Regions from separate parts of the Homo sapiens genome. Here region 2 is linked to region 1. Evidence: fine-mapped expression QTL. A gene starts in region 1. The other region holds a variant in brackets. All regions are shown on one strand. Distances are between the middles of the regions. Region 1 holds the start of CHST13 (carbohydrate sulfotransferase 13). Region 2 overlaps C3orf22 (chromosome 3 open reading frame 22).

Region 1 (2,902 bases):
ACATCTCCGGATGAAGGGCTGAGATGTTATTCCCAACTTTGGCCACCAGGTGGCAGCATATAAGGGCAAAGCGCGCTGAGGATTCCAGGCTGGCAGTGAGGCCAGGGAATGCCGGTCTGGGGAAATTTGGAAGGCACCTTTGGATGCGAGTTAGGTCCGGCAGGGAATGCAGATGACCTGGAATCCCTGGGTCCTGGGCCAGTCTGGGGGTGGGCTAGAGGTTCCCCAAGGCCAGAAAAGTCATGATAAGAAGCTTCTAGCTTACTGTGAGTCTGGACTCCCACCCCTGTCCTTTGAGAACATCATCACCATTTAAAGCTGTATCTCAAAACCAGCAGAACTATTATTTGCTTAATATTCTTCCTTAAATAGATCTTCCACAACTTAAATAAATATAGTAGGGAGAAATTTTTATTTCACCACTTTAACAGAAACCAGCCACTTGCCAGAAACAGGCAGTAACCATAAACAAATTAATTACTAATATCAAATACTTACCTGGCACTCACTGAGTGCCAGACACTGTTGCAAACATTTCCTGTATCTCATTTAATCTTCACAGCACTGAGGTTTAGGATTATCCCCCCGTACAGGAAAATGGGAAACAGAGAGGTGCAGTTAATTTCCTAATCTCCCACAGCAGTAAGCGGCACCAGGTGGGTTTGGAGTCACCACATTTTTCAAGAACAGTTTAACAACTGGAGCTTCGAGTGTGGAATAATAGACACTGGAGACTTGGAAGGGTAGGAGAGTGAGCGAGGTGGGAGGGATGAGGAATTACTTAATGGGTACAATGGACATTATTTAGGTGATGGTTACACGGAAAGCCCAGACCTCACCACTGCATATCTCCATGTAACAAACCTGCACTTGTGTCCCTTACATTTATACAAAAAACTCCAAAAAAAACCTACAGTGTAATGTAGTACCCTATCCCATGCACTCACACTGCTAAATGTTGTTTCCAACGCACTCATCCGCGCACCCAGTGCCAGCTGCACCCTCCCGTTCCCTGCTAGCCTGACTTCTGGGCAGCAAGACCCTGCGGTTAGACGTGGGCTCCTGCCCACAGGGCTAGCTGGATGTGTGTGTCTTTCAAAGGCTGGACTTTACTCTCACCTCGCCCCCTCCACCCCCCAACACACACACACACACACACACACACACACACACACACAGTCCCTGGCAAGTCCTCAGAGCTCACGTGGTGCCCAGAGAAGTTGTGGGTGACACGATGAGGCACAAGCTCCATTCCCCGGGGGATGTAAGCTGAGACCCTACCTCTCTGTGCAAAGGCTAGTGCCACCTGCATGAGCTAGATTCAGGCAGGACCTGGAGACCCTGGAGGAAAGCAAGGCTGCAGGGTAGCCTTGGGTCGGGGAGGGAGGGACACTCTTAGGCCTCTTACTGAGGGCGGGGGTCCCGGAGAGCCATGGACAGGGCAACGCTCTACTAGGCTCCTTGGTTCATCCCAGATCAGCCCTTGGGCCCCTGGCATCTAAGGCAGCAAAAAGGCAAGGGGACACCGCCCGGGGTGGGGCACGCCACCGCGACAATGCCTCTTGGCCTTGGGTGGATAATGGCACCCCTGGGCAAACCCTAGGGGCGGGGCCCAGAGGCGAGGGGCTTCCCCAATCAGTCTCCGCCCTAGCGCCCTGGACTTCGGCCCCATTCCATTGGGTGAGGGTGGGGGCACGAAAAGAGGAGCGGGCTTGCGGCCCCACCGTGTCCCGCCTCCTCAGTCCCCAGCGACTCGCAGGGGCTGGTGGGGCTGGGGTCCAGCTGCCGTGCTCCCCTGCCCTGCGCCGCGCCGCGCGTCTTGGTAGGCGCTGCGCTGCCGGGGCCGGGTCCTGGGCCAGTGCAACTCCGCCCCCAGCCGTATCCAGCGGACTGTCCTCCGCCGCGCGCCCGGCACAGCATGGGGAGGCGCTGCTGCCGGCGGCGCGTGCTGGCGGCCGCCTGTCTGGGCGCCGCGCTCCTGCTCCTATGCGCCGCGCCCCGCTCCCTGCGCCCGGGTGAGTGCCCGCCGGCCGAGCCGCGCACCCCCAACCAAACCTGGCTCCTCGCGCTTTCCACCGCGGCCTGACCCCTCGACAGCGCGGGGGACACCTGTTGTCTCCTTCCTGGCTGGGGCTAGGGGTGGCGGGCAGGGGCGCTGGTGAGGCACAGAAAGGCTCTAGACGCCCCCGCGAGCAAAGGCTCTTGCTCCTCCTCCGGAGTTACCTCCCCACTCCCAGAGCGGTGACTGTTTTGAGTCCCACAGCCGGTGCCTGGAGACCGGGGTCAGTTGTGGGGGGTAGAGGACAATTGGCCAATCCGGGAAGGCCATCTCCCTTACCTTCACCCCCTTCCCCTGCGCACCCCACGGCCCCTGGACATGAGCGCTGCTGGGCGCATGCGCATAGGAGGGGAAGCTTGGGCCACTCGGTCCGGTCCCTTGGTTGTCCTACTGTGCAGTGGGTGCCACTCCCTGCTCCACCCTGAAATCCACACTGGGTAGGGCTTGGGACTCCTGTGCACCCACTCGTGGTCTGGCTGGGGAAACTGAGGCAGTTAGTCATGACTCCGCAGAGCTGAGTGCCCTGGGCTCCACCGGTGCTGAGTCTTTGCTCTGAGTCTCTCCTCAGCTCATGTGAAGCCTCCCATCAACCCATTTCACACAATCTGAAGCGGGCCAGAGAGTGGGGAGACAGGTGTGGTGGCAACGTGCTGGCTATACAATCTACTTGGGACTGGAGGGGCCCAGCCAGCGCCCGGGTCTCCTGACCTCAGGGCTGTTTGCCTTTCCTTGTATGTGGTATGCGTGCTGGGTGGGACGACTCAGTCCGCCTCCCCACCCCCAGTGTGGGCTCTGAGAATCCTGGGCCCCACCCTTGGAACCTGGCAGACACAGTCCCAGGGA
Region 2 (2,902 bases), 28 kb after region 1:
ACCAATGCCCACTCCCCCAGCCCTGGCATGGGACCAACTCCCTGCTGTGGCTGGGCCCTGGGAGCCGCTTGGTCCCTGGTCAATTATCTCTCCCCAGCCTTGGCTCAGCCCACTGCCCCCTTCAGCTCCCTGACATGTTCCCAGCAGCAGGGGTTCAGCCCCAGGCCTCTGCTCTGACCCCACAGCTGCCCCTGACTCTAAGCCAGTCCATTTTGCATGGGTAGAATCTGAGACCAGGAACATCTGAGCTCTCAGAGCCCAGCCCTGGCCGCTAAGCCCCATTGCTTCAGCTCGGCGATGTGGGGCAAAAGCCTGGGGATCTGATGCTCCTGTAGCCGAACTACGGGGAGTGAGGCCTGGCAAAGGCCAGGGCCGTTTGTGTGCTGGATGTGCATGTAAGTCTGTTCTTTGTGTGTGTGTGTGTGTGCGTGGCACTACTATCTCTCCAGGTGTGTGTTCAGGGGAACGCGTGTGCATCCTCATGGCTGGCCAGAGTTGACAGGCACTATATCAAACAATGGGCATGGAAAAGTCAACACAGACCCCCCCCTGCCCCTGACATTAACTGGAGTGGGCGGGGGGCCAGGGCATCAGTGGGGCCGGGGCATTCAGGAGGCTAGGGGTCCTGCACCGCTGGTGGAGGAAGCCCTTCGGTGCCACACAGCTGTTCCCCGTGCCGTGCATGACTGAGGAGACACCAGGTCAGAAGCTCTGTTTCTTTCTCCACATCTGTTTAGGAGGAAGTAGGTGTGCCTGAGGGTCTGCTTTTCCGTGGCTGGATCTTTCCAAAGGTGTGCAGGGTTTCTTTGAGCGCCCCATGCATGGGGTGACAAGGGGGCATGAGAGTTTGTGCTGTGGTCAGCTGAGGGCCACCCAGTGCAGAGGTCCCTGCCAGGGCCTCCACCCTTGGAGTACAGCATTAGCCGGCCCAGTGCAGCCACAGTGAGTGCAGAAGCTCCTGGCTCCTTCCCTTGCTGCTCTCCCATGTGGAGGACTTGGCTAAACTCCTGCTGCACTGAGGCCAGTTTCTCCACCACTCCTCCAACTAGGCCTAACCCCGGTGGCCTGGGCCCTGCCCAGGGAAGGTTCTGTGTGCCCTTGCCTGGATGCTGCCTGGCTGTGGGAACAATTATCAGGCTTTAGCATCCCCCTTCTCTGCCTCAGTTTCCTCAGCTTTAAAGTGGCGCGTGCTGGGAGGATAACATGAACGTCTGCATGCAAAACTGGGGGACAGAAAGCCAGGCAGCATGCACACAGCCAGTGGGGGTGGTGGCATCAGGGCAGGGACTTACCCTCGGACTGGGATGGACCTCGTTGGCACCAACCTCTTCTGCAGGGGCAGCTGCACCGTGTTCGAGTCGTTTGTGACCTCCCA[G/C]GGCTGCAGGGGCTCAGGGTCGGGCTCTGTCAGCCACGACAACCTGCAACAGCACTTGGAATGTCAACATGGCCACCATCCACCAGCCTCCTGAAGTAACTCTCACTCATCTGGAACTTTCCATCTGCTAGGCACTGTTCTAAGTGCTTCACAAATATTAGCCCATATGTCAGCTGACAAGCATGCTGTGAGGCAGGTGTTACCCACACTTTACAGACAAGGAAACTGAGGCACAGAGGTTCCACAGCCAGGAGGTGGGAACTAAGCTGCAGCCTGCTCCAGAGCCTTGTCATGGCCACAGCAGCCAAACGGTGCAGAGCACTTGAGCCCCTGGGTGCTGGCCTCCCCTGGTTTCAACCTGAGGCCACTCTGTGTGGTGTGTACCTGCCACCTGGGCCTCATGTGATGGTGTCTGCGGTGGGGGACAGAATGGGGTGCAAGGTTATGGCTACAGTTTCCTGGGGCAAGGACAAGAACAGGTGCTCAGCTGGCCCGGCACAGGGACACAGCATGGAGCTCATCGTCCCCACCTCCCTCGAGCGTGGCTGCCCTGGTGGTCCCCCGTGGTCCCTGTGGGTAGCCCTGCCAAGCATCCAGGGCCACTGCTGGGCGCACAACACTTGCTTCTGGGGTGGGGGGTGAGCATGGAGTGGGAAGCTTGAGGTTGCACGGTGCCAAGCTGAGCCCCAGTGCCAGGTGCTGCCTGCTGTCCTGCGGGTGGGAGGCCAGCTGCCCTGCGCCCCAGGCATTGCTGGCAAGATTTCCCTTGCATTTGTTTTGCCTCTTTGGCCCGTGGCTCTGTCCTTATGTGAAGTGCCCTGTGGAGACTTGGCCCAGGCCCCCTCGGGCTGCCCGTTATCCTGGCTAGTTGCGAGTCCCAGGAGCTCACAAACAATGGGTGCCCAGCACACCAATTCCAACACAGCTCAGGAGGGGCAGTCGTCTGTGGCCATGCTCCTCGCGTGACTTGGGGAAGCAGCTGGCCTGGGCTCTGGGATGACCCAGGGAGGCCTGAGCCCACCCAGAGGCCCCTCGGCTTAGGCTGTGATGGGGGTAACGAAGGCGGACCCCAGACTGTCAGCTGGGCAAGGGCTGCTAAGGGTCTCCCTGTGGACAAAACCCCCTCCCAGCTGCAGCCCCACAGAATGCATTTGAGTTCCCAGGATGCTGGGGTGACCTGGGGGAGGCAGGGCTTGTCTCCAGAGGTGTCAGCCTCCCGCACCTGTACGGAAACTTCTTGGCAAAATTCTCCTGGGCCTGGATCCTCCACTTCTTACTCTGGTGAGACTTCTTGCAGGCACTGGAGTCCATCACTGAGTGGGTTAAGCTGAGGCACACCTCTCAGCCATGGCTGGAAGACAAGAGGAGGCGTCAGAGGGGGCAGGGGTGGTGGGGGGCAGAAGGCAGAGTGATGAGTACCCAGCAGGGCTGGGGGTGCCTGCGGGCCGCCAAATGACCTGCATCACTGCCCTGTGCATGCACCGCTGTGTTCAATTTTCTCCTGCGTGTAGCTTCCTGTGACCACCG

The links. PIP is the estimated chance that this variant, and not a neighbour inherited with it, causes the effect.
Region 2: its variant is fine-mapped to the expression of CHST13 in whole blood (TOPMed, PIP above 0.99).

What each region holds. Positions count from the first base shown.
Region 1 is chr3:126,522,415-126,525,316 of GRCh38, forward strand. It overlaps CHST13 (carbohydrate sulfotransferase 13), which reads left to right and starts at 1,741. Exons shown (of 3, transcript NM_152889.3): 1 at 1,741-2,015. The coding sequence starts at 1,919. RefSeq lists enhancers at 1,065-1,565, 1,566-2,066, 2,127-2,627, 2,628-2,902.
Region 2 is chr3:126,550,705-126,553,606 of GRCh38, forward strand. C3orf22 (chromosome 3 open reading frame 22) reads right to left here. Exons shown (of 4, transcript NM_152533.3): 2 at 2,598-2,726; 3 at 1,293-1,418. The coding sequence starts at 2,686. Among named protein-coding and RNA genes, the nearest start is that of C3orf22, 6.8 kb to the right of the region's middle. RefSeq lists an enhancer at 1-132. The variant G/C (reference allele first, on the strand shown) is at 1,376.